4 linked regions of the Homo sapiens genome follow. The protein of the gene in region 3 interacts with the protein of the main gene of each other region in a pairwise test. Each region holds a gene or a part of one and is shown on either strand. Other genes may lie near its edges. The genes, in order: TTC23, CLIP4, TRIM32 and SCGB1A1.

Evidence for each region.
Region 1: the proteins of TRIM32 (region 3) and TTC23 interact in binary tests that used the Homo sapiens proteins (3 or more experiments, as listed by UniProt).
Region 2: the proteins of TRIM32 (region 3) and CLIP4 interact in binary tests that used the Homo sapiens proteins (3 or more experiments, as listed by UniProt).
Region 4: the proteins of TRIM32 (region 3) and SCGB1A1 interact in binary tests that used the Homo sapiens proteins (3 or more experiments, as listed by UniProt).

Annotation. Positions count from the first base shown.
Region 1 is NC_000015.10:99,239,557-99,246,581, forward strand, and holds part of TTC23 (tetratricopeptide repeat protein 23), read right to left. Parts: intron 5,955-7,025; 5' UTR 5,833-5,954; intron 2,004-5,832; 5' UTR 1,809-2,003; intron 1-1,808. UniProt on the Homo sapiens protein: Participates positively in the ciliary Hedgehog (Hh) signaling.
Region 2 is NC_000002.12:29,153,397-29,160,421, reverse strand, and holds part of CLIP4 (CAP-Gly domain-containing linker protein 4), read right to left. Parts: intron 4,069-7,025; coding exon 3,979-4,068; intron 3,219-3,978; coding exon 3,075-3,218; coding exon of another isoform or gene 3,020-3,074; intron 90-3,019; coding exon 1-89.
Region 3 is NC_000009.12:116,682,969-116,690,318, reverse strand, and holds the start of TRIM32 (E3 ubiquitin-protein ligase TRIM32), read right to left. Parts: upstream 3,015-7,350; 5' UTR 2,938-3,014; intron 2,751-2,937; exon of another isoform or gene 2,654-2,750; intron 1-2,653. UniProt on the Homo sapiens protein: E3 ubiquitin ligase that plays a role in various biological processes including neural stem cell differentiation, innate immunity, inflammatory resonse and autophagy.
Region 4 is NC_000011.10:62,414,587-62,422,032, reverse strand, and holds the start of SCGB1A1 (uteroglobin precursor), read right to left. Parts: upstream 3,001-7,446; 5' UTR 2,938-3,000; coding exon 2,883-2,937; intron 1-2,882. UniProt on the Homo sapiens protein: Binds phosphatidylcholine, phosphatidylinositol, polychlorinated biphenyls (PCB) and weakly progesterone, potent inhibitor of phospholipase A2.

The sequences.
Region 1 (7,025 bases), on a different chromosome or scaffold from region 3:
AGATTTAACAGGAAAGCTTTGCCTACACCCTGTTGTACAGAGACACAGTGCTATTTGAGATCCTAAGATGTTGGCTAACTTTTTTCTAATAACTTCTTGCCTTATGCTTCCTCATCTGTTCAACCCCACTGGCTGATAAGATGACCATTTCAACAGGTGCTGCAGTCTAGGGAAAGAGCAGTAGCCAGAGATGGAGAATCTGAGATTCAAGAACCTGTGCTGTCCCAACTACCCATGTGATTTGGGCAATACCAACTAATATATACATAACACTTTATACTTTCACATGTTTTATCTCATGTGGCCCTTACAACCATGTAAGGTACAGAGGGTAGCTATTATCATCCCCATTTTATAAATAAAGACGATGAAATGAACCTAAATCAGTTGCACATCACACAGCCAGAATTAGCACCCTGGTCTTCTCATAATTTGGGGGTTTCCCATGACATCATCCTGCCTTTCACTGACCACAGTCTACAGCAGTGGGAAGCAAATGCTGTTGCTTTGGAAACCTAAGCCTGCATTTTAAAAAGTGATCATACATTTTTATAAACAGGAATGCAACATCTTCAATAGATTTAACTATATTTTCTTATCTTCCATTTAGTGGGAGGCAGAAAAGAAAGTTTAAAGATGAAATAAGTAAGAGGCCCTGCAGTATTTGTTATTCTGGGCCTCTGAACCTAGTGTTAAACTTCGAAATGGATTTAACTTTTCTTTTTTGGCTTAATTGTAAAAACTGGTTTGTCTCATGCTGCCTCTTAATATTGCATCCTTAAAAGAGAGGTTATATTTATTCTGAGCACTCATAGGCTCATCTAACTTGTATATATATATTTTTTTTCGCCAGTTAAAAAAAATTGAGCCATCATTTTAAAATTAGGAGTTTCACATGAAGATGTAGATTTTGGGGTTTCTGACTTCCTTTGAAAACTCAGAACACTTGTCAACACTAGATCTATGCCACCACAGGCAATAATCAGCTAGGGAAGAGGGGGAGCTGCCCTGGGGGCAAGGGTACTCTCCAGTTTGCCTGTTGCCACCAATCCCTATTGGCTACCGGACATGAAGGCAGCAAAGTCGTTCCCATTTGTCATTGTTCTTGTGTCTTATTGTAGGAAAGTAGGTCTCTGTATCCATTTCTCTCTTTCAAAGTGAAAGGCCAACAGAGAAGGATATAATTTTCCTGGCCAACACCACTCATTTTCTGTTATTTCGTCTAATCTAAAGCACCACTGACTATAAAGATGCTGCTTTTTTATACACCATTTGACTTGCAATTGTAACGTTCACTCTAATTTCAGAGATGTTCAAATGCCAAAAAAAATGTACGTCTCTGAATCAATGAAAGGAGGAGGTATGCTACCTGTCTGGCTTCTAGAGGCATTTGAGTCTGTGGCCTTACTTTAAATGTATGTGTTTCAATGTATGTGGCATCACACAGTAACATCCTCAACATAAAAACATACTTCTCAGGCAGGGCGCGGGGGCTCATGCCTGTAATCCCACCACTTTGAGAGGCTAAGGCTGGCAGATCACCTGAGGTCGGGAGTTCGAGGCCAGCCTGACCAACATGGAGAAACCCTGTCTCTACTAATACAAAAAATTAGCCAGGTGTGGTGGCACACACCTGGTAATCCCAGCGACTCGGAGGCTGAGGCACAAGAATCGCTTGAACCTGGGAGGCAGAGGTTGCAGTGAGCCGAGATTGTGCCACTGCACTCCACCCTGGGCAACAAGAGCGAAACTGTCTCAAACAAACAAACAAACAAACAAACAAAAAACATGCTTCTCAGTTCACTTACTTTGAGTTACATGCTTATCATCAGCCACTTTTCTTTGTAGTAGCTATAGCTGGGGCTTAAAATTTCATCAGACATCAGCCCAGGTCCCACAAACCATCCTCTTCTTGCCAGCCGTGGGTTCAGCTTTCTAGGTCTCTGAATCACAACTGCCAATGAGACCTACTCAGTCAGTTGATACTGTTCCTTCTGCCAGACCTGCCCAGTAGAATGTTAAAGCACATAATCAGCCCCAGATCAGGGTGTTAGGAAGAAGAGGTCTGAAGTGGAGTCTCAGTCTTCCAAGTGGTGATGTTCAAAATAATAACTGAAATAGCAGGAGGGCCAACCAATCTATATAGGTGCCAACTAGGCTGGAGCTCAGTTCTGAAGGTCCCCTGCTTTTCCAGGTGTGAACCGTTGGAGGCTGACTTGTGGAGAGATGTAGGGGAGCCTGAGGAAGGGGCAGGGGCCCTCAGGGCAGTGGCTTTTAGGAAATAAAAAACCTCATCAATCAGGGACGGTGGCTCATGCCTGTAATATCAGCACTGTGGGAGGCTGAGATGGGTTGATGGCTTGAGCCGAGGAGTTCAAGGTCAGGCTGGGCAACATGTCAAAACCCCGTCTCCACTAAAATTGCAAAAATTAGCCGAGTGTGGTGGCGCTCGGCTTCTCCAGCTACTTGGGAGGCTGACGGGAGAGGACTGCTTGAGCCCAGGAGGCGGAGGCTACAGTGAGCTGAGATCACACCACTGCACTCCAGCCTGGGTGACAGAACAAGATCCTGTCTCAGAAAAAAAAAAAAAAAGTTAAAAAAAAGAAGCCATTATGACTAGTTTCTTAACTAGTGAAAGTGTACGCTAGTTAAGAAGCAAACTTACCCATATGTAAGCTAACGCACTGGAAAAACACTCTAAAAAGATAAAAAATACCAAAAAAATAGTGATAAAAAAATAACAGAAAAATAGAAAATCTGAATAGATCTATAACAAGTAAAAAAATTAAATTAGTAATTAAAAATATTTATACAAGGTTAAGCCCAGGCTCAGATGGCATCAGTGATGTATTCTACCAAACCATTAAAGAAGAAACAACATGAGTATTTTGAAAACTCTAACAGAAGATAGAGAAGGAAACTCTCACTTGTTCTATGAGGTCAGTATTACCCTGATACCAAAGCCAGACAAAGACATCACAAGAAAATAACAAATGAATACCCTTCATGAATATGGACACAAAAATCCTCAACAAAATATTGGCAAACCAAATCTAGCAACATATACAAAGGATAATACATTATGATCAAGGGGAGTTTATCCTAGAAATGGAAGGTTGGTTTAACATCTGAACTCATTAATATAATACACTATACAGTAGAATGTGGTCACAAACCATCTGATCATCTTGATAGATGCAGAAAACACATTTGGCAAAATCCATTATCCAATCATGATTAAAAAAACTTCCCCAACCTGATAAAAGGCTGATAAAAGCCTGATTTTACAAATCAAAGTGGATTAAAGACTTAAATATAAGACCTGAAACTATAAAATTACCAAGAGAAAACACTGGGGAAACTCTCTGGGACAGTGGTCTGGGGAAAGAATTCTTAAGAAAGATCTCAAAAGTACAGGCAACCAAAACAAAAATGGACAAATGGGATCACATCAAGTAAAAAAGCTGCTGTATAGCAAAGGAAACAATCAACAAAGTGAAGAGACAACCCACAGAATGGGAGAAAATATTTGTAAACTACCCATCTGACAAGGGATTAATAACCAGAATATATAAGGAGCTTAAACAAAACCCAATAGGAAAAAAAATCTAATAATCTGATTAAAAAGTGAGCAAAAGATCTGAATAGACATTTCTCAAAAGACATGCAAATAACCAACAAGTATATGAAAAAATACTCAACATCACTGATCAGCACAGAAAGGCAAATCAAACTACAATGAGGTCATCTCACCCCAGTTAAGATGGCTTTTATTAAAAAGGCAGTAACAGATGCTGGTGAGGATGTGGACAAAGGGGGACACTCATACACTGTTGGTGGGAATGCAAGTTATTACAGCCACTGTGGAGAACAGTATGGAAGTTCCTCAAAAAGCTAAAAATAGAAGAACTACCATATGATCCAGCAGTCCCACTGCTCCATATATATCCAAAAGAAAAGTATATCAGAGATATCTGCACTCCCATGTGTACTGCAGCTCTATCCACAACAGCCAAGATTTGGAATCAGCCTAAATGTTCATCAACACATGAATGGATAAAAAAATGTGGTAGATATACACACAAAACAGAACGAAATCCTGTCATTTACAGCAACATGGATGAAACTGAAGGATATTATACTAAGAGAAATTAACCAGGCAGAGAGAGACAAATTTTGTATGTTCTCACTCATTTATGAGAGCTAAAAATTAAAACAACTGAACTCATGAACACAGAGAGTAGAATGATGATTACCAGAAGCTGGGAAGGGTATTGGGCAGGGAGGGAAAAGTGGGGATAGTTAATGGGTACAAAACGTAGTTAGATAGAATGAATAAGATCTAGTACTTGATATCACAACAGGGTGACTACAGTCAACAATAAGTTATTGTATATTTTAAAATAACTAAAAGAGTAGAATTGGAATAATTCTAACACAAAGAAATGATAAGTGCTTGAGGACACAGATACCCACTTACTCTGATGTGATTACTATACATTGTATGCCTGTGTCAAAGCATCACATGTATCTCATAAATATATACACCTACTACTATGTACTCACAAAAATTAAAAATTAAAAAACAAAACCAAAAAATCCTGATTTACAAAAACCTAAAGCTAATATCATACTTAATGGAGCATGTTTGAATGTTTTCCAAGATTGGAAACAAGGCAAGAATGATTTCTCTCACCACCTGTAGTCAAAGTTGTGGATATTACAGTCAGAGCAACAGGCAAGAACAATAAATTAAGGCATGAAGATTAGAAAGGGAGAAATAAAACATTATTATCAGCTGACATAACCCTCTATGTAGAAAATCCTAAGGATTCCACAATAAATAAACAAATAAATCGCCCCCCCCAATTAGAACGACTAAATAAGTTCGGCAAGGCCATAGGATACATAATAAATAAATAAAATTGTATTTTTATATGTCAGCAATAAATAATCTGAAAATAAAATTAAGAAAACACTGATTCAAAATAGGATAAAGAGAATAAATATGTAGGAATAAATTTAACAAAAGAAATACAAGACTTGTACAATGAAAATCATACATTATCGAAAGAAATTAAAGATCTAAATACATGGACATTCCATGTTCATAGATTAAAAGCCTCAATATTAAGATAGAATACTCCTCAAATTGATGTATCGATTTAATGTAATATCCATCAAAACTCAGCTGTTTTTTTGCAGAAATTAACAAGTTGATCCTTATTATGGATGAATTAAGATGGAAATACGAGACTAAGAATAAATAAAACAATCTTAAAAAAGAAGTTGGAGGACTCACACTTCCCATTTTTAAAATGTACTATAAAACTAAAGTAAAAGTAATCAAAAGTGTTGTACTTAAAAATTTTCAGTTATGAGGTAAATAAGTTCTAGAGATATACAGCATGGTAACTATAGAAAATAATTGAAATTTGTTAAGATCTCAGATGTTCTCATCACACACACAAAAATGGTAATTATGTCAAGTGATGAATGTGTGAGCTAGCTCTATTGTGGGAATCATTACAAAAGGTACACTTATATCAAAACACCATGATGTTTACCTCAAATGTATATAATTTTTAGTTTGTCAATCATATTTCAATAAAGCTGGGGAAAAGCCCTCCCCAAAACAACGTGGTGGTACTGGCATAAGAAATGACATATAGAGGCCGGGCGTGGTGGCTCATGCCTGTAATCCCAGCACTTTGGGAGGCCGAGGTGGGCGGATCACTTGAGGTCGGGAGTTCGAGACCAGACTGGCCAACATGGCAAAACGCTGTCTCTACTAGAAATACAAAAAATTTAGCCAGATTTGGTGATAAGTACCTGTAATTCCAGCTACTCGAGAGGCTGAGGCAGGAGAATCGCTTGAACCTGGGAGGCAGAGGTTGCAGTGAGCCAAGATCACACCACTATACTCCAGCCTGGGTGACAGAGCGAGACTCCATCTCAAAAAAAAAAAAAAAAGAATTAATATATAGAAAAATGGGATAGTGTTGAGAGTCCAAAAATAAACTCTTATATATGTGAATTATTTTTTTTAACAAGCATGCCAAGATAATTCAATGGGAAGAGAACAGTCTTTTCAATAAACAATAAACAGTGCTGGTACAACTGGATAGATACATGAAAAGAATAAAGTTGGATCTCTACACCTCACACCATATACAAAAATTAACTCCAAATGGAGTAAAGACTTAACAGTAAGAGGTAAAACTATAAAACTCTTTGCAAATATAGGAGTAAATCTTCATGAACTTTTTTTTTTTTTTTTGAGACAGACTCTCGCTGGAGTGCAGTGGCGTGATCTCGGCTCACTGCAACCTCCACCTCCCAGGTTCAAGACATTCTCCTGACTCAGCCTCCCTGACTCAGCCTCCCAAGCAGCTGGGATTACAGGTGCCTACCACCACGCCCAGCTAATTTTAGTAGAGACGGGGTTTCACCCTGTTGGCCAGGCTGTTCTCGAGCTCCTGACCTGAGGTGATCCACCCGACTTGGCCTCCCAAAATACTGGGATTACAGGTGTGAGTCACAGGGCCCAGCCTGTTAGGCAAAGACTTCTGAGATATAACACCAAAAGCATAAGTGATAAAAGAAAAAAAAAGATAAATTAGATTTCATCAAATCCAAATCTTTACTGCTTCAAAAGACACTATTATTAAAGTTAAAAGACAACCCACAGAATGGGAGACAATATTTGTAAATCATTAATCTGATAAAGGACTTTAACCACAATATATAAAGAACAATTAAAAATCAGTAACATGGGGCTGGGCGTGGTGGCTCACGCCTGTAATCCCAGCACTTTGGGAGGCCGAGGTGGGCAAATCACGAGGTCAAGAGTTCAAGACCAGCCTGGCCAACATGGTGAAACCCTGTCTCTACTAAAAATACAAAAAATTAGCTGGGCATAGTAGTGGGCACCTGTAATCCCAGCTACTCAGGAGGCTGAGGCAGGAGAATCGCTTGAACCTAGGAGGCAGAGGTTGCAGTGAGCTGAGATCGAGCCACTGTAC
Region 2 (7,025 bases), on a different chromosome or scaffold from region 3:
CTGTCCTACCACTAACACTCTCTCTCCGAGGCGGAGTTCCCCCTCGCAACGGCTATTATTTGCTGTAGATGTTGCTGAGGAATTCAAACCTGTTTAAGTCAGGGAGGGATACAGGGGCAGGGCAGGAAAAGAGGAGAAAAAACAAAGGGAGAAAAACTCAAAAAGCACATTAGCCAAAAAATCACACTAGGTATTCTAACTAGTCTAGTTAGTTGGTGATTTTGATATCTGATGCCTTTCATCACATAAGTCATCTACAGTTGTGTTTCTCACATGTGAGGTCAAGCTGCTCAAAGGAAATGTGAAGAGTTTCCTGGGAAAATTACTGCCATGGGAAATTCACAAAACCTGATCCCTGGTAAACTACCAACTCTTCCAAGATTGCCTGCAGCATCTCTACTAGAACAGGGGTCACAGCAAACTGTTTCTGCAAATTGCTGGACAGTAAATATGTTAGGATTTGCTAGCCATACCACCTCTGCCACAACTATTGAACTCTGCTGTTGCAGCATGAAAGTAGATATAGACAATATATTTTTTTCAAATGTGCATGGCTGCATTCCAAAGAACTTTATTTACAAAAACAAGTGGTAGGTCAGATTTGGCCCATGGGCCATAGTTTGACAATTTCTATTCTACTAAAATACTAGAATTATAGTATTAATAGTTCACTTAGACTCAGTGTAAATTATATAAAAAGTCATGTGATTTGACTTTTTTTTTTTTTTTTTTTTTTTTAAAGAAACAGGGTCTTGCTGTGTTGACCAAGCTGGTCTCAAACTCCTGGGCTTGAGTGATCCTCCCACCTCAGCTTCCCAAAGTGCTAAGATAACAGGCATGAGCCACTGTGACCAGCCAAAAGTAGTGTGATTTGAAGGTTAAATTGCTATACGGTTCTAATTATCCTAAAGTGATTTTGTTATTAAGAACAAAACCACTGCCCTGTCAACCTGATTCAAAACTAAACCTTGAAATGCCCACTATTAAACATAGAAGTCCTAGAGAAATATGATCTAGAAAGCTGTTCAAATATAACAGCTGAAAGAGAAGAAGTGGGTGCTTGAGCCTTGTCCCATCAGTACATAAACAAAGATTTGAAGAGCTGCCATCTGAGAGGGAGTAGAGAACTCTGGAGGAGGGCATGGGATGGAGGGTAAGTCATACTGTGAAAAAAGAAGAAATCAAAAACACAGCAACTAAACAAGGAAAATAAACCCATGGAGAAGGTCTGGATTATACCAGTAAGTCCGAGGCCCTCATCATAACCAATATTCTATAGCACTTCATAGTTTACAAAGTGCTTTTCCTAAAAATTATGCTGAAAAATAAGATACAAACTCAGGAATTAACTAAGACACACTGTTAACAGCCAGTAAGTGGTACACCTAGATTAAAACCAAGACTCTGTGATCAGAAATCCTCAGGCCCGTCCCCTTGTCGCCTGTAGACAATGAACCAAAGATGGCAAGTTCAACAGTGGGACACAGGCTGGGCATGATGGCTCATGCCTGTAAATCCCAGCACTTTAGGAGGCCAAGGTAGGAAGATCACCTGGGTCCAGGAGTTGAAGGCTGCAGTCACTATGATTGCAACACTGCACCCCAGCCTGGGCGACACAGCAAGACCTTGTCTTTAATAAAAAATAAAAAGTAAATAACAATGGGATATGATGAGGCCGAGGTCCCTACCTTTCCCATTCCCCGAATCCTTTATTTCCACTCTTCTTTCTCTAATTTTTTAACCTAACTTTCCATTATTGTTCGTTCTCTGCAGTCTACATCTCCCTCAAATGCAAATCTATAAAACAAGTGGAATATCTACTCACTAGAGAAACATGTTTTAAGTACATGTCTCTGGGGTTCCCAACACAGACTTTCCCATATCTCCCATTCTCGGCCCATCTCCCTCTTTGAAAGGTCCTCTTTCTCACTCTGATAACTCTCTTCATCTTCACTGTTGTTTAAGTCGACATAACCCTCAAATTTATTTTTTTAAATGGTAAATATATAGGCACGCTAGACTACTTTGTTTAGAAGGTTAAAAAAAAAAAAGTAATTCCATACCCATGTATAAATTTTAAAATCAAGTAAATGTCAAAAGTGCAAATACCAAATGAAGGGGGCCTTAAAATGTGAATGAAATTTGGACAAACAGGATGGCTGTGTCAGCACTGTACCTTCTCACCTCTGCTCCTCACAACATAAAGAAAAACTGGTTGGGGTATGGAGAGAGGAAGCCACTCAGAGAATAAATATTCCAGGCAAACAATTTCAGGGAAAACTTTCAGGTTCTCTACTTTTAGGGTCCCAGTTTTTAGGCTTATTATGTCAATGTTATTGTTGAGAGCTTTGGAGGTTTCTTCCCATCAAGTATTTTTTTAGAAATCTGTCATGAATATTTTCCATAATAAAATGTTGGTTCACTACAAGAACTATTAATAGAAGCACTAAAAAAAGAATCTGGTAATAAAGAGGTTCATGAAGAACGTATTTTGCCAAGATGGCTTTTGCCTTTCTGGACAAGTTCGCTATATAGGCAAATAAGTGAACTGCAACAGACAAAATCTATGTCATTTCGAAAAGAAGTCTGATAAAGTGTTTTACGTATCTTTACAAATAACTGAAGAAATGTGGACTGAGTGAGATTATGCAGGTTCACGGCTAGTTAAAAAGCCATATCAAAACTGGCTGGTATTGCCATCCTGGGAGAGGACCCTCTGACCTTCTCCTAGGTTTTAAGCAAACATAGTTTTAAAACAATCACTTGAATAAAAACACAGAAAGCATGCTTTTTAAATATGAAGATGACACAAAGGCCTGTGAAGAAGCTAAATTCAGATGAGGTAAAACCACTAAGAATGAATTACATGAAAATAAATGCAAAGTCTTATATCTGAGACGGCAAAACAAAGAGACCTTAAGGCTTAAGGTTCGGGGGAGGTGGGGAAGAGTAAAAGTAGTTCAATCTGATTGAAGTAAAGGGTTCCTTCTACACATTTAAAAAGAGCAAATCTACTTACAAACAAACCAAGATAAAAAACACCAAGAAAGCCTGGTTGAAAAAGCCATAGATACCAGCACTGGCTCTGGATGAAAGGGAAGGGCTTTTGCTCATTGTCTTCTTGTTACTGCTGATTGCATTCTGTTTCTTGGGGTAGCTCTGTCTGTGTTCCAAAGAAGATGTAGAGGAGCAGCTGCTGACAGATCCAAGCAGGGCAACTGTAACAGATAAAGAACGTGTCAAACGGTGGAAAATAAGATGTGGACCAAGAAGCAGCTTGTCAAGGCAAATCTTTCTGAAATTCTTCATTTAACTTCCTCAATTATGGATTATCTAGTGTCAAATTAAATGCCTAATTTCATCCAAATAGCAATTGTAGTTTATATATAAAAGATTTTATAACACAAGCAATAATATTTTAAGGATTCCCACGGTAAGATCACAATCTTATGTAAGAGGTATCACCACATCAATTGATGTGAACTGACTACCTAATCTAATGACCATCAGTCACCTCTCACCTTAGATGACATAGTAGAGTCCCCTTTTATACAAAAATTAAACATGATATTAATATGTTTTAAGGCAACAAAAGTTTAATATTAAGACATTTTGAGTTAAACCAGAAGGCAAGAAGGAATACTCATGCTCAATTCATCTAATGATTTGATAGCTAAAGGCAAATGAAACATTTGTGTAGAGTGCTCTATATTATGGAATTTCCGTTTATTTTCTTAAATCTAGTCCAGTAGTTATCTAATTTAAGTAAAAGAATCATAATGCAGTACTTTACACACAAAAAATATAATGTATATAGCTTGCTATGAGCTGCTTCAGTGATTTCCAAGTTTAATTTTTACTATAATTTTTCCCTTGCCAACTTTAAAACTTAACCTCCATATAAACTGTTTTCCTACCATATTTTAAAGTTCCATCAAAAGTTAAATTTTGAGAAACAGAGGTTACAAGGTATATTACCATCTTTCTCTGTCACAGTTTTAAGTTCTTCACCAGGAGGCAATGAAAGTGTTGACTCAGAAGCACTATCTTTTTTTGATGTCATTAATCCTTGGACACAAAAATAAAACACTTTAAGCAAGAATTTTAACATTAAACATAAAATGTATTTTTTAAAGTACATGCATCCCTCATTATCGAAATCTCACTCACTTCTGAAAACATATTGGATAACAACTGCACAGACATATGAGGACATGTTTTGGTATAAGCACTAGCATACGAGAAGGAGACAGTAACAGTGGCTACAAAGATCAATTAATGTCTCATCAAGATGATCACATTCTGAGATGGGTCCTAAGGGACAGGTCAGATTTCTTCCTGAGAATACTAGCCGTATGGTCAGGAAGAACTGAGGGCAGGCATTCTTGATGGACAAAAAGAAAATCTTAAGACACAGAAAATAGTGAGTAGCTTGGCTGGAACAGAGTACTTATGAAATGTAGGAAAAGCAAGACTAGACAGACAGGTCACAGTAACACTTCAGACAGGGATGCCAGTGCCCAGCTAAGGACTGAGAACTCTTCTGTAAAGAAGGAGCCTCTGCTGGGCTTTGAAAAGGAATACTGGCATGAACAGAGTCTAGTTAAATAACACTCTCCTGACAGCAGGGCTGCAACGAAACCACAGCGGGAGAGGCTGGAAGCAGGGACCAGTCAGACATTATTAGCATAGTCCAAGCATGAGAGCCTGAACTCCAACAGCAGAAACTGAATGAAGAGGGTGGAGAGGAGACATTTTGTGAAGGCAACCTGAAGAGTAAATTTTTATTTTTCATTACATTTTTCAGTTATAAAATATTTTCTTTAAAGTTTTTATAAAAAATAATACAAGGAGATTCCCTGTACATTTTGACTAGGTTTCCTCCAAAGGTAATGTTTTGCAAAACTGTGGTATAATAAGTATAATATGTCAACCAGGATGTTGGCAGTGATACAATTCACCAGTCTGAGATTTCCACAGTTCTGCTTGTACTCTTGTGTGTGTGTGTGTGTGTGTATACACTTGGGTGTATCATTTGGTTGTTTTTCATATCTTCTATTTCTTGGCTGAAACTTTCTTTTCATTTGTTTCAAGAGTGTTCACGTTTGATTCTTTTTTTTGTTCAGAAACAGGGTCTTGTTCTGTTAGCCAGGCTGTAGTGCAGTGGCACAATCATAGCCCATTGCAGCCTAAACTCCTGGACTCAAGTGATCCTCCTGCCTCAGCCTCTAGAGTAGCTGGGACTACAGGTGTGCACCACAATGCCCAGCTACACCCTTAATTCTTGGAGTGTGGTTACATTACTTAAAATCTTTATGTGTTCATTGCAATGTCCATGTCATCTCAAAGCTGCTATGCTTGGACTGTCTTTTTCCTTGTAAGAGGTGTTGACTTTTTCATATTTTGGGTAATTTTAAATTGTATCTTGTGTCTTTTGAATATTATGTATGGACACTGGAATAGGTCTTGTTTAAATCCTATGGAGGATGTTGACTGTTTCATTTTAGCAGGCAGTCAACCCATGTAGCCTCTGGGCAGAAGTTCCTGACCACCCTCTGTGCACTGTGGTTCTGATGTGGGTTCCGCTTCCGCAGCCTCTGCAATGCTGTTTGAATTTGTCTCATGTGCTGTGCAGCCCAGTAGTCAGGCTGGGACCCAAGCAGTGGTCTACCAAGGAGACCAAAGGCTTTGGTCAGATCCATGCATACACCACTTGCAAGAAGACCTAGGAGTTCACAGCCAAAATTGTGAGGCCTCTTTCTTGAGTCCCCTCCTCTCTATGATTTCCCTGACACTTCCTGCTCCTGGGCATCCCTTCCCGGTATTCTGAGTAGAATGTCTAAGCTTTCGTTTCCTTGCTCTGTCATACAATCCTGAGACTGATTGTGCCTCTGGGGCCAAGCAGTGAGAAAACAGAAGAAAAACCAATGTGGATTCCATCTATGTCCTTGGACCAAAGTTTCTCTGGTCAGAGACATGGATTTCCCTTCCTTGGGGTTTCGGGTGCCTGCCCATTCACAGCTGCCCATCCATACCACGTAGGACTGCCTGGGGACTGGATGGGAAACAAGGGAAAGAAAAGGCAAGCAATAAAGATAACAGGTGATTTCATCCACATTCTATCTAATAGGAGACCCCTTTTCTGCTCCTCAGACCAGAAATAGAGGGGGCTTCTCTTGGAGCTTTCTGTCTATATTTACCGTATACTTCTGGGCTTCAGGTTAAAAGGATGCTACTTATAATGCCACCAAAAAGTATGGAGTACCTACCAATAGACCTAACAAGGCAGATATAAAATACCTGTAGAAAAAAATTACACAATTTTGTTGGGATATTTTCAAAGGGCCTAATTAAACAGAAAGATATTCTAAACTCATAATTTAAAAACTGACTATTGTAAAGATGTCAGTTCTTTCCCATTGATTTAAGCTTCAACTAAAACATCAGATAAAACCTCAACAGAATTTTTAAAAGGAAACTTAACAGTTTATTGTAAAATGTATACGGAAGGGTGATTTATAAAAGCCCCAAATCAGCAAGACAATGATCAAGAATGAGATAGGAGGTTTTCCACTACTGGACATCAAGATTTATTTTTAAAAACTACTTATTATGGAGTGCAGTATTGACACAGGGATATTCAAATAGCCCAGTGGAACAGAATATAAAGGCCAGCCTAATTCTTGGACAAATTCCTTTCATCCTGGTAGAGAGCTTTCTACCTCAACTATTTACAAATTACCAAGTGTTTATTGAGCACCTGTTTTGTGCATTGCTACAGTGAAAACAACACTACAATTTACTCTCATGGTTCAGTTAAAGTTTAAAATTTTGCCGAGAGAATAGGACACTTGCACAAATAAAGCAATCCGAGGACAAAACCCAAGATAACAAATAACAATTGGGTGGTATGGATAAAAAAAGCACATACAAAGTTAGGGAATGAGGAGATTAAAGTGAACTAGAGACAGGATATGAATAAGAAGTCGAAAAAAATGGTGAGGACCTCAAAAGGCAGAAGTCAA
Region 3 (7,350 bases):
TATTTTTCTTATCTGTAAACAAGGAATAAAACCTAGACTGTTAGCAGGATTGAATTCACTAAGATAATGCACATAATAAGCACTCAACAAATTATAATCATTTGCATTTTTAATAGATTGAGGCTGACAGGACAAGTGCCGTAGCTACTGACAAGGTAACATAGGAAATTAGAGTAAGGAGTTTAGACAGGGCTGATTTAATTCCCATGACATATTTTCTTTTAGGGATGTGCACAGATATTCCAGCTAAGTCTTGCTGTCAGACACAGTCTAGCTTTGTTTCTGAACTGGCTTCAGCAACCCTGTAGCTAGTCCTGGAAATGATAGAGCCAAATTCTGTTCCAGGGAAAAGCAGACCAAAAGAGACCATACAGAACAGTAGTTACTCTCCTTCAGAGTATGACTGCCTTCAGCCTCAGTCCCTGCTATGAGGTGTTTTTTCAAGCCAATGGCCTCCATACCTCACCCTATAGTCCGTTGCACCTCATCCTGCCTGATAACCTCAGGCTCCTCTCCTTATCTAGCCCCAGGTCTTGGTCTAAGGGCAAACCAAGAACAAAGTCCAGGGCTCCTCCCTACCTAATCAGAGAGATTTACCCCCCAACTTTAGAGTTCAATCTGATAGTCAGTGATACTCACTGGCAATCCTCTTTTTCATTAGAGGGGAATGGGCTGAGAAAATAAGACTAAGCAGGCCCTAGCAAGGAAGAAGCAAGGAAAGCGGGAATATACGGAGTTACAGAGATCTGGGTATGAGCTTAACTGTGTCATTCCTAGCTATGGAAACTTAGGCAAGTCACTTCCTAAGCCTTAGTTTCCTCATGTGTAAAACTGAATACAGTAGAGCCTACTTAGAAGGACTGTCATGAAAACTGAGTAAAGAAGTAGATACAAGACTAAAAATTACTAGATTTTGAGAACTTACTATGTGCCAGATCCTAGGCATGCTAGTTTACTTCACTAAATCCTCACAACAATTCTGTGACATTGGTCTTGTTATCATAACCCCATTTTACAGATGAAGAGCCAAGGCACTGGGTGGTTAAGTAACTCATTCAAGGCCACAAAGTCAGGAAGAGATAGAGCTAGGACTTAAAGTCAGGAAGAGATAGAGCTAGGACTTGAACCCAGGGTATCTGACTCTAGGTCAGAGTGCCTCAACTTTGGCATTACTGACATTTTAGGCAGGATAATTCCTTACTGCGGGGGGGAAGGGCGTATCCCACACATTGTCAAATGTTTAACATAAAACATTATGTTTAATGTTTAATCTACCCACTTGAGGCCAGTAGTATCCCCCACCCTGTGACAACCAAAAAACATCTCCAGACATTGCCTAATGTCTCCTAGGAGACAAAGCCAGACTTGGTTAAGAACCACTGCTTTACAGTCTAGCACAGGACTAAATGCTCAATACCTAAGGGTTCCCTTTTTTTTTTCTGGTGGTTGTTGTTGTTGTTTTGTCTGTCTCCGAGCCCAAACACCTCACTCACAGAGCCACTGCCCCTTCAAGCTGTAATGGATCTTATATAGGATAAATTATTCCACTCATTCCCCTGGAGGTCTCACTTTCTATCTGCTATCGTAGCTTGGGGGTACAGGGAAAAAGGGCTTAGGCAGATGACCTTGAATAGTTCCACTTCTTCTTCCCCAAAGCCTACCACTTTCAGTGGGCCGGGGGACCGGTGGTCAGAATGGAGTTAGTGGCAATACCATACCTGCCTCATGATAACGGATCTTTGTTTAATAAATGAAGAAGATTCTGCCCTTCACAGGGATTACCACACTCCTTCAGGATTATCTGAACTGAAGATTTATCACTTTGTTCCTCAGCACCTGAACTCTGCTCATCTTCATATACTCATCCAGTTTCATACATTACTTTTAGGTCCTTGGGTCCCCTGAACTCCCTCTGTCTCCCATGCAGCGATTTAAGGAAAATCTCTTTAGCAGCCCAAGACACCAATCCACAAATCTACTCAGGGTCCTTTGATTTTATAGCCCAGTTAGGACATCTCCACCCCACGATTCAATCCTCTCCAAACCCTGTCCCCAACCCTCTTACAATTCCAAATTCCAATCTTTGGGGCTGTATATTGCAACCCTCGTCAATTCCTCACTCATATGCCCCAAATCCCTCGGACTCAGATCGTTTAATCCCTATTTCCAAATCTCTGCCACACTCAGCCCCGCACCTCAGTTCAACGCCCCAATTCCTCACCCCAGATTTCTGCTCTCCCTCAATCTGAGCCCCCATCTCCTGCATTCCATCGGGCACTGTGCTGCCCTCATACCCTGCTCCTTCCTCTTATGCACTGAATGTCATGTGCTGCCTTCACACCTCAGCCAGCTCCCTTCTTTCTGCTAACAAGATAGAGTCCCTCAAGAACTCACCCCACCCCCTCAATCTCACCCTCAGCCCACTCCGAAAACCCTTTCTCAATAGCACTTAGGATCGCCCTAGACCTTGCTCCTATCATCTCAGACCCTGTCCTTGCCAGATGCCTAGCGCCCCCAGATTTCCTCAAATCTCATCGGGGCCCCCCAGTTCCTTCATATTTCTGAAATTCTGCACCCAGGTCCCTCCAGGGCCCTGATTCCCTCCCATCTCCCACATGCTACACCCCGTTCCTCCTCAGGGCCCCGACATTACCTCATACCTCCCGAGATGCTGCAACCGCAAATCTCTTCAGAGCCCCTCGCTCCCCTCCCCCAGCTGCATCTCCTCGGATCTCCTCAGCCCCACGAATCCCTCCCGAGCCTGCCCCTCGCAGCCCCACCCCCACCCTAGTCCTGCCCCCCCCAGATCCGGTCCCCACACCCTGCCATTCGGGCGCGGCCGCTGCACGCCGGCACGTTCCCCCGCCTGGCCGCTGAGCCACGGCCCACGACTCCGGCCGCGGTCCCCAGTCCCCAACCCTCCTTCCCGCCCCCTACCTGACCGCCCGCGGCTCCGACGAGTCCACCGCCGGCAGCCCACCCGCCTGCCTCCCTCTGCGCACGCGCCGTTGAGCACCCCTTGCCGGGCGCCAATTCGCAGAGCTCCCTGTCCGTCACTGAGCCCCGCCTCCCCAGCATGCTGGGGCTTGTCGTGCAGCTGGCCCCAAGCGCGCGGGGCAAGGCGGCCCTGCAGGGGTGAGCTTTCCTCTGAGAACCCGGGGCCTTAGCGACACGTAATCCAGTTTTCCGTCTCCTTGGTGCAGATGAAGAAACCGACGCCCATGGGCGAAAGGGACCTGCTCAAGTTCACTCAGTAAGTCAGGAGATAAGCCAGAATGCGTATCTGACTCCAGTCTCAATGTCTACCCCTTCACAAAACGGTAGCCTCCAGGGTAGTCCTCAGCAAAGCGTTGGCACCTTACTGAATCTGTTTTTCCATCTGAGAAATGGGCCAACGGAAAAATCAAACTTCCATTCTGGGGAAGTCGAGAACCGGGACTCCCTAGGAAGGGCAGTGCTTTGGCCTCATGTTCTGTGCTCTGACAGAGAGCTGCACTAGAGACAAGTTTATCCATGAACACATTGCTCTGTAAAGGAATGTTTTGCCTACTCAGCTGGGAGGCCGACAGCAGAGGCAGACTTGGGGAGTACACTCTGCAGCCCCTGTCCCTGCAGACTGAAGGTACCCGGGAACCCAAACCAAGTGTAGTTTTGCTCGGGTGAAGGTGGAGGAATCTTACCAGGTGGGAGGTGATCTGGCCTGAGATTTGAGGGAATCTGGGGCACTAGGCATCTGGCAAGGACGAGGTCTGATACAGGACTGGCTGGCCACGACCTGCAGTCCCTGAAGTAGTTTGGGGCCAATCACCTACTCTCCAAGGTGACTATACTGTACAGCTTAGGAGCACAAAGGAGTTTGAAGTAGGATGGACTTGGATTTGAAATTCCCCTTAGCTATGTGACCCTGCACAATGATAAAACAATAAACAAAAACAATGACTAACATCTTTGAACACTTGCTGTCTGGCTACAGCTGAGGACTTCAGGTGCATAGCTCACTAAATCCTCATAAGGACCTAATGAGATAAGGCAGCTGATGGTTAACCTACACCTGTTGTGTAACCTAGGTGGTTACACAAGGCCACATATACCTAAGTGTTGGAGCCCAAATTTGTACCCAATTCTATCTGAGAACCCACTCTCTTAACCTTGTTTACTCTTTCTCCCCATTTTCTAAATTTCTAATTGAAGTTTGCCATGAAGATAAGCCAAGATTATGGTAGTTTGCACTTAATGATAACTATATTTGAAAAATTGTAATTAGCAGGTAGGGGATAAGGGAGAGGTAATGCCAAATGATTTCTCACTTAGACCAGTTGGGGAGACTTTGCACCCGTTTAAAATTTTTTTTTTTCCTGAAAACCACAGTTATCAGCCCAAAGTATAAATTTAGGACTGTTCATAGTCTTACATATATACATATTATATATGTGTGTATATGTATCAATACAGACATACTGATGTTTCCCTAATTACAGAGGAGTGTTAAAAATACTCCTGGGGATCTAGCTCAAGCAAGTGTCTTGAAAAAAAAAAATCTCTCTTCTCCCTTAAAACAAAAATCAGTGTTTGACTCTTCTTTAATGTTTATTACCAGTTAAATGAATTATTATACCTCTCACAAAATCTTAGAGTAGAATAAGCATTCTAGGAAATGCACTCAATTTTTATCTTATAGCTTGACATATCCTGGCACAATATTAGAATTCCTCTTACACAGAGGCATTTAAAAAATAATCTTTGTGGAGTGCTTTAAACACTCTTTATTCAGCATTTTAATGTAACAGATTTTTATTTAACACTTAAATCACCTATATCAGTGGAACCACCTGAGGAGTTTACCTTGCCCACTGCCTAGACAGAGCTGATTCATCAAGACAGGGGAATTGCAATAGTTAAAGAGTAATTCACGCAGAGTCAGCTGTGCGGGAGACTGGAGTTTTATGATTACTCAAGTCATCTCCCTGAGCATTTGGGGAACAGAGATTTTAAGGATAACTTGGTGGGTTGGGGGAAGCCAGTGAGCCAGGAGCGCTGTTGGTCAGGGATGAAATCATAGGGAGTCGAAGCTGTCTCCTTGCAGTGAGTCAGTTCCTGAGTGGGGGGGCCACAAGATCAGATGAGTGAGTTTATTGATCTGGGTGGTGCCAGCTGATCCATCAAGTGCAGGGTCTGCAAAATATCTCAAGCACTGATCTCAGAAGCATTTTAGGGAGGCTCAGCATCTTGTAACCTCCAGCTGCATGACTCCTAAACCGCAATTTCTAATCTTGTGGCTAATGTTAGTCCTACAAAGGCAATCTAGTACCCAGGCAAGGAGGTCTGCTTTGGGATAGGGTTGTTACTGTCTTTGTTTAAACTATGAACTACAGACTAAATTTCTCCCAAAGTTAGTTCAGCCTATGCCCAGGAATGAACAAGGACAGCTTGGAAGTTAGAAGCAAGATGGAGTCAGTTAAGTTAGATCTCTTTTACTGTCTCAATCATAATTTTGCAAAGGCAGTTTCAGTCCATCACTTTGGGTTTTGTAACACCTTAATCTTAAAGTGTAGGGTATGAAGATGGGAAAAGGCTGTCGATTGCTCTGGGTTCTTCTTGCTGACAGGGGACGTAGTGGGAATGGGAGTCAACCCCAAGGTGAGAAGAGTGGGACCACTTTCAAGTGTCTGAGCGACTCATGCAGGTCTGGCTGGGCTTCTAAGGCTTGCATGGCAAAAACATTAGTACTCTCATCTATAGTTTTAGTACAGTATTTAGGTGAACAGCCTACTATAAGGTAAATAATGAGTCCTAGGATGAGGAGTACAATACTCAATTTTAAAAGCAAAGATTTGAAAGCATTAGTCTGGCGACTTCCAACCCACAAATAATTTAGGATTTAGTCAAAATTGTAGAAAAAACTCAAGGACAGCTAACAACAGCTAACAATAGGTTTCCTCTTGAAGCATAATTTCTCTCTCTCCAGACCCCATTTTTATTAAAAACAAATCATGATAGAACTGATTTGTTTACAGAAATGTACTTTAGTCTTACTATACTTGGCCTGATTATTTGCATAAAGTGCAGCAAGAATAATTATTTTTCACTTAGGGTCTTTTTTGTTTAAATTAGCTTTGATGGAACTCTGTTCCATGAGGAATCTCAGATAAGAGTTTTTAAAAGCCAAGCTCAGCCATGGGTTTGTATCCTCAAATACCTATGAGTTGGGTAAATTCCTCTCTTCTCAAGGTCCCAAAATAACTTGGGGTTCCTGGGCCTGTTAGAAAGTGACATTCTTTACTTACCACAGGTCAGGAACCTTGTACAGGGACTGTATGACAGAACCTTGTACAGGGACTATAGACAAGGTCTGAGGTTAGATTCCCCAGGGGGCTTTAATTGGCTCTATACATTAATTTTGATTCTTTGAAGGAAGCATGCCATTCCAGTAAAAGCCTTGGTAAAATAATCAATTTCTCCAGTTGTGTCCTGTTACAAGACAAAAACAGATTCTTACTGCACTTATGCAATTAAGTATACTGGCATAAATTGAGAATACTTACAAATAGTTTCCATATTCAGGAGAAATCAGGTAGAGAGAAACAAATATGCTCTAAATTTTTTTCATGGAAGTATTTTTTACTCATTTGTTAAAAGTTGCAAATAACTCTAAAGAAATATGCTATCTTGACTCTGAAAATGAGAGGATTAGCAATGCTTAACACATCAGCTATCTGTGAGAAGCCTAGAAGTTTCATTTTTTCCTCTATTCCAATAAAACAATTTTTAAAGTTATCTGAGACCTGCACTCAGAGTGTGATATCTGATTATAAACTGCCTTTTGAAAAGGACAAAAGCAAGACAAAATGTCTATGGATGACAAAAGTCTATAGCTACTATTAAAGCTGCAATTGACTAGGAATCTTGGTTACTTCTGTGGCATACAACACTTTTATATAACAATTATAATTATTAATAATGTACTCTAAATCATATCAGAATTATAGAAGTTTCCCATAATTTCTGGAACACATACTAATAACATATTTATACAAATATAGTCCAAAGAAAACCAAACACTATTCACTCTTCAATTTGAAAGTTTTTCCTCGATTCTAATATCACAGTCTCCAGAGTTTTTAATCAGAAACCTGCATTTAAGAGGGCCTGTTAAATTTTATAGCTGATTATAAAACCATCCGTTAAAGAGGACCAAAGCGAGACAACAATTGTATATGGATGACAAAAACATTTTAGGGCAGCCACACTTTTTTTTTTAATTTATTTTTTATTTTTTATTTTATTTTATTATTATTATACTTTAAGTTTTAGGGTACATGTGCACAATGTGCAGGTTAGTTACCTATGTAT
Region 4 (7,446 bases), on a different chromosome or scaffold from region 3:
AGCAAGGTGCCGTTTTTCTTTCTGTTGGAGATCAAGGCAGAGTATTGATCATAGAAGCTGCTGGCCTGATTTTTTAATGCAGTGTGGAGGCTGGGAAGAGGCCACTGAGGGTTTTATTTCCCACCAGAAACTTGCCTCTCATCAGTGGTTAGAGATGCCCTGAGCCATGCTTCACTGGGGGCATGTGACAAATTCAGGCTCTGGCAGGAAAAAGCGATTGTAAGCCAGGCACGGTGGCTCACACCTGTAATCCCAGCACTTTGGGAGGCCGAGGCAGGCAGATCACGAGGTCAGGAGTTCGAGACCAGCCTGGCCAACATGGTGAAACCCCGTCTCTACTAAAAATACAAAAAATTAGCCGGGCGTGGTTCTGGGCACCCGTAATCCTAGCTACTCAGGAGGCTGAGGCAGGAGAATCACTTGAATCCAGGAAGCAGAAGTTGCAGTGAGCTGAGATCTCGTCACTGCACTCCAGCCTGGGCAACAGAGCGAGATTCTGTCTCAAAAAGCAAGCAAGCAAGCAAGCAAGCAAGCAAGCAAGAGAAAAGAAAAAGAAGAAAAGAAAAGAAAAGAAAAGAAGCCATTGAGATTGTACCAGCCAAACATGGGCCCCCGAACCTGGCCGGGAAGAGGTGTGCACATGTGCACAGCGGGCCCTGTGGCACACTCAGCTCATGGACAGAGCAGCCACTTGTACCACTTCATTCCCTTCAACACAGAGCTTCCAGACTCTGTTTTCTTCTCAGGTCCTTACAACCAGGAACATGGGGGAAAGTCACCATTTTCTACCCACTGCTTGCCTCCATCTTCCCAGTGAGTCTCAAATCCCTTTTCCTTGAATTCTCTGCCTTCTGAACAAATTTGCCTTCCCTCCTCTGACTCTAGGGCCTCACTAGAAATTGCCACTCCAAGTCAGACCCTCTCCAGAACTTAGGTCCTTGATGTGTAACTTACTGTGTCACCAGGCAAGTCACTCTGTGTTTCTGTAGCTCAGTTTTCTCATCTGTAAAATGGGAACAATATCCCTACTTCATTTTATTTTTTATTTTTTAAATTTTAATTTAATTTAAATTTTATTTTTATTTATTTATTTGTTTTCAGACGGAGTCTCGCTCTATTGCCCAGGCTGGAGTGCAGTGATGCCATCTCGGCTGACTGCAACCTCTGCCTCCCAGGTTCAAGTGATTCTCCTGCCTCGGCCTCCCAAGTAGCTGGGACTACAGGCATGCGCCACCATGCCTGGCTAATTTTTGTATTTTTAATAGAGACAAGGTTTCACCATGTTGGCCAGGTTGGTCCTGAACTCCTGACCTCAAGTGATCTACCCACCTCGGCCTCCCAAATTGCTGGGATTACAGGCGTGAGCCACCGTGCCTGGCCCAATATCCCTACTTCATAGGGTTGTTGTAAGAATAAAAAGAGAGGCCAGGCATGGTGGCTCACGCCTAATCCCAGCACTTTGGGAGGCCTAGGTGGGTGGATCACGAGGTCAAGAGATGGAGACCATCCTGGCCAACATGGTGAAACCCTGTCTCTACTAAAAATACAAAAATTAGCTGGGTGCAGTGGTGCGTGCCTGTAATCCCACCTACTTGGGAGGCTGAGGCAGGAGAATCGCTTGAACCCGGGAGGCGGAGGTTGCAGTGAGCTGAGATCGCGCCACTGCACTCCAGCCTGGCAACAGAGCGAGACTCTGTCTCAAAAAAAAAAAAAAAAAAGAATGAAAAGAGATATTATGTGAAAGGGTGACAGTGATTGGCACATTGTGTGAAGTAAGTGTTAAATATTGTATGCATGTGCACACAAATAGACAAATGCATCTCTGACCCACCCCTTAACATGTTGCAGTCCTATCTTGCTCAGCCACCCACCTCTGTACGCAGACAGCACTGAGATCTTCTAATTAATACACATTTCAGTCCAAAATGATGTCATTTTCTCTGAAAAACAAATAAACCTCTCTGCAAAATAGTTGTTCCTACTGCTTCTTGGTTTGGGTTTTCTAACTCCCCAGGGTCATAAAACTTATCTCCATGGGTGTTGTGAAGCTTTCCAAGTGAATTAATTGGAGTTTGTTTATTAAAAAATAACAACAGCATTTTCAGATGAGAATGGAAGAGGCTGACGCAGAGTGAAAAACAGAGTTAGATAACCCAGTTCCCCAAAGACGGGGGATCTTGGAGAGAGCTGTGATCCTTCTTTCCTTCCTTTCTCCCCCTCTCTCCGTCTCTCTTTCTGCCCCTCTTCCCCCCACAGTTCTTTTCCTTTTAGTGACAGCAGCAACTACTCAGAGACTCCTAATCCCTTTTGCAGAGGACGGAAATGTTTAGAAAACTTCACTCTGGGTTGGCAGTTCCCCAAAGGGAAGCTCTCTTTCTGGAATATTCCTCTGTGCCCAGAATGAGAGACCTTGTCTTGGGTTGGGTTTCTTTTGGGGTCACGAGTCCCTGCAGCTCCCCTTCCAGTGACTTCAGCTGCCAGCATGGAGTGGAGACCCCAGACTTGGAGGCTGCACCAAGGTCTCAGCATCTTGGAGTCTGTCCAGATCTGGGATGAGGGCCTCATTATTCCTATGCTGGATGTACTCATCTTTATGGGGTATTCTCCACTCCTCCCTCCAGGCTATTCCATTCCCTGGGATTCTGAGGGTTGTTGGATATAGAAGATGGGACCCTTTTTAGGCTTCCTTACAGCCTGGGGCTCTCTCCAAGTTTCCAAGATGAGCTTGCTCACCAGACCCAGTTTTCTGAGACTCAGCATGCCCAGGTCCTCCCAGCAGCTCCAGAGCAGGAATGGGCAGCTCACTCCTTCTTCTGAGCAGAACTGGGGGGTCCTGAGAGTTCCTAAGTCCAGGAGGGAGGGAAGGGTCTCTGAGCACTCACCGGAGCTGCAGCAGAGAGCCAGTGTGACCAGGGTGAGGGTGACAGCGAGTTTCATGGTGGAGGAGGGGGATGCTCTGGCCCGTCTCTGGTTCCGTCTCTGAGTCTGGTGGGCTAGTATGAGACATGCCCAGCAAGGTGCCTTTTATATGCTCTAGGCAGCAGCACCCAGATGGGGAAGGGCAGGGCAAGGGCTCTACATAAGATACTGCACTATTTACTTGGCATTGGCTTGGTGGGATAGGTAAATATTCCCTTTTCTCAACCCAGTTTCTGTCCCCACTGAAACTGAGCTCACACAATGGGCCACTTGGGGGTGGAGGGCCGAGCCCTGCCTGGAGGCAGTGAAGGGAACCCAAGTCAGAGGATGTGGAAACCCAGCTGCCTGTGTCACTCACTGAACCTGGGCACTGGGGCAGTCCAGATCAAGAGAAGCAATTGTGGAGCCCACCTGGAGAAACTGAGGCCCAAGTTCCCTCACAAGTGGCAGGGACAGGACTAGGACTAGGACTCAGGACCCTGACACTCCACTGGGCTCTTTCATAGGCTCCCCTCTGAGGAGGGCGACTGAACCTTAAGCCAGGAAAGACACATGGTTTGGAGCATTGCTGTGGTCAGACTTCGGGGGCCCCTGGATTGAAGCATGTTGAATAAAAGGGACCCTTCCAGAATTCCCATCAGAAACCTGAGCCCTGCCCCAGGCTGGGTCTGTTCCCACCCAGAAGTGCTCTCAAGTCCTGTGCTCCTGATGGCCCAATTGGTGGGACCTTCAGTCCTTATCTCACTTGACCTCCCAATGGCCTTGACACCTGTGACTGCTTCCTTCTCGAACCATTCTCTCTCTTGCGCTCCCACGCCTCAGTTCTTTCCTGTTTTCCTTCTTCTGGCCATTCCTTCTTGTTCTCTTTAGATGTTTATTCTTTACTGTTCTTAAGTGTTGATGGTTCCCAGGCTTTGGCCTTCTCCCCTTTCTTGCCTCCAGTTGCCATTTCCTGGTTCTTCTCCAAAGCCCGGGCCTCATAGCACCTAACCTGGCCTGGTCAAAATCCCCTGACTCGACCTCCCTGCCTCCCTGCTAGCTCTCCTCAGCCATCCTCTGAAAGGCCATCAGAATGATCTTCCTAAAACCCACTGGTCGTGTCCTTCTTCTTGAAACCCTTAAACTCTTCCTTTTGCCTAAAGAATAAAATTCAAGTGCAATTTACAAGGCCCTTGCCCACTGACCTTTGCCTACCATTTGAACTTCATTTCTCCTCTCCCCCACACAACGACTTAGCCCTCTCTTACTATTTGTGGATTCGAGAATGTTCCATGTTTTTTCATGCCTTTCTACCTATGCACAAGCTAAGCCTCATGCCTGAATACACATTTCCTGCCTTGTCCACTTCGCCAAATTCTATTCGTACTTCAAGACTCAATCAAATATTGATCCATTCATTCATCCAATAAATGCTGACCACCTATGATGTGCCAGATGTGGTGCTAGGAGTCGGGAACTGGGGTAGATAGACATGGAGAGGCATTGCGTGGCACTTCAAGAACTCCTCAAAAATAAATAAATAAATAAAAATAAATAAACAAATAAAAGGCCAGACAGGGTGGCTCATGCCTGTAATCCCAGGACTTTGGGAGGCTGAGGCAGGTGGATCACCTAAGGTCAGGAGTTTGAGACCAGCCTGGCTGACATGATGAAACCCCGTCTCTACTAAAAATACAAAAATTAGCTGGATGTGGTGGTGGGCACCTGTAATCCCAGCTACTTGGGAGGCTGAGGCAGGAGAATTGCTTGAATCTGGGAGTCATAGATTGCGGTGAGCTGAGATCACGCCATTGCACTCCAGCCTGGGCAACAAGAGCAAAACTCCGTCTCAGAAAAAAAAAAAAAAAAGAAGGACCCCATTGTGCCTGAGGGCTTCGAAAGGGTTGCTGTGCCTGCAAAGGGGGCATTCAGGGGCCAGAGCACACAAGGCCTCGTTCTAAGGCCTTTACACTCAGAGTGGGAAGCTCTTGAAGGTTTTAATCAGGGAGTGACATGGTCTGATATCCCTTTCCTGATGAACTGACCCTGACTTGGGCAGCTGGGGGAATGGGGTGTTATTTCCTGACACAGAGAAGACTTGGGAAAAATAGGGTTGGGGGTGAAAATAGGGAGTGAAGCCTTCCCCGACAGGTGGTTCTGATGGGTGGTGACTCTCCCCATGGGCCTCTCTTCCCCCTCTGCTTACAGGGCCCATTATACAATATTTTAACTTTGCAATTCTTATTTTCTTGTATGACTCCTTTACTTGACTGACCTCCTTTAGGGCTGAGGCCGCTGTAAGCCAAGGTACGCAACGCTTGCTAAACAGGAATCCCTGGAATGAATCCATGCATGAGGCCTTTGTGCCATGTGACAGTTGAAGGCTGTGGTGACCCCGGAACCGTCCCACTCCGAGACGCCTTAACACCGGTAAGAGCACACGTTCTAAACTAGCAACCAACAAAGACTTGTCAAGTACGTTATGGTGTGTCCTTACAATGAAACGCTGTGTGGCTGAAAACAGAGAAAGAAGATCTTCTGAGCTGATGGTGAAATGATCTCCAAGGCAGACTGCAAAGGGGGAAAAACAAGGCATGAATAGAGCAAAAAAGAACAAAGAGAAGGCTGGGCGCGGTGGCTCACGCCTGTAATCCCAGCACTTTGGGAGGCTGAGGCGGGTGGATCACAAGGTCAGATTGAGACCATCCTGGCCAACATAGTGAAACCCCGTCTCTACTAAAAAAATACAAAAAGCTGGGTATGGTGGCGCTTGCCTGTAATCCCAGCTACTCGGGAGGCTGAGGCACGAGAATCACTTGAGCCCAGGAGGCAGAGGTTGCAGTGAGCCGAGATCATGCCACTGCACCTCCAGCCTGGTGACAGAGCATGACTCCGTCTCAAAAAAAAGCAAAAAGAATCCACATATGCATTTGCTTGTATTTGCATAAAGCATCTCAGAAGTGCCTTCTTTCTTTTAAGTTTCCTTCTGTGTCCCATCATCTGGGCTCTTGAGGTTAGCCCATCTTGAGGATTTCAGGTGTCTGCATCCCTCCCCTCTTAGGGACTGTTGAAAGGTGTAGCCTGCCTGTAACCCCAGCACTTTGGGAGGCTGAGGAGGGCAGATCAACTGAGGTCGTCGAGAGTTTGAGACCAGCCTGGCCAACATGGTGAAACCCCCTCTCTACTAAAAATACAAAAATTAGCCGGGCGTGGTGGCAGGTGCTTGTAATCCCAGCTACTTGGGAGGCTGAGGCAGGAGAATCACTTGAGCCCAGGAGGTGGAGGTTGCAGTGAGCCGAGATCACACCATTGCACTCCAGCCTGGACAACAAGAGCGAAACTCCATCTCAAAAATAAATAAATAAATAAACAAACAAACAAACAAAAGAAAGCTGTGGCCAATGGAGCTGAAATGGGCAAGGAAGATGAGCTGGACCACTGGGGGCACCTAAAGCCCATCCAGTGCCGCCACTAGTGGATCCCTCTGTGGGCAGTGGCTGGTCTGGCCGGGGCAGCTGTGATGGCTGCAGGGGTCTTAGGCAGGAGTCACATCACCCATAGCCTCAGACTCTGCTCTCTACTTTCCACCTTCATGGTGCGAGGTCCTGGGGACAGGATAGCTGGCTCCTGGGTCTTTGAGGAACTTAACAGCTAGGAGGAGAGACAGAGATGGGTGCAACTGATGGGAATGCTCTGTGGGGAGATGGAGGAAGTCAGAGAAGGAAATGGTGCTCCGGGAGTTGAAAGGGGGCTGCCCCCAGGCTGGGCGTGGTGGCTCATGCCTGTAATCCCAGCACTTTGGGAGGCCAAGGCAGGCGGATCACCTGAGGTTGGGAGTTCGAGACCAGCCTGAACAACATGGAGAAACCCTGTCTGTACTAAAAATACAAAATTGGCTGGGCTTGTGGTGGTGCTTGCCTGTAATCCCAGCTACTTGGGAGGCTGAGGCAGAAGAATCGCTTGAACCTGGGAGGCAGAGGTTGCGGTGAGCCGAGATCGCGTCACTGCACTCCAGCCTGGGCAACAAGAGCGAAACTCCGTCTCAAAAAAAAAGGAAAAAAAAAAAAAAAAAAAGAAAGGGGGCTGCCCCAAGAAAGGTAGCTGGGCAGAGGGGAGAGGGCACGTGGAGGGCTGGCATTTGAGCTGGCCTCTGGTGGATGGGTGATGCTGGTGGTTGGGGTGAAGCGGGGGATGTGCCAGGAGGAGGAAGCCACATGAAGGGGGCCCAGGCTCAGGAGGGGACCTGGCCATGGTCCGACATGCATGGGACAGATAAGCACACAGGTACAGTGGGAGTCTGGGGGCACCGGGGGCACTGGCCTTTCAGGTGCGAGGTTGGAGGTTTGCTCTGATTCTGGAAGGTACCTCGACTGCCACCACCAAGTGTCCCAGATAGGCTCTGCCATCTGGCCCTTGGGAGATCCTGCTTGGTGGCGGTGGGTGTTTCTCTCCCCTGCCTCAGGACCCTGCAAAGCCCCTGCTCTTCTGACCCTCTGCTTGAGATAGTGAGGCAAAAAGTGTGTTAGTCAAGGCTTGGAACTCAGAGCT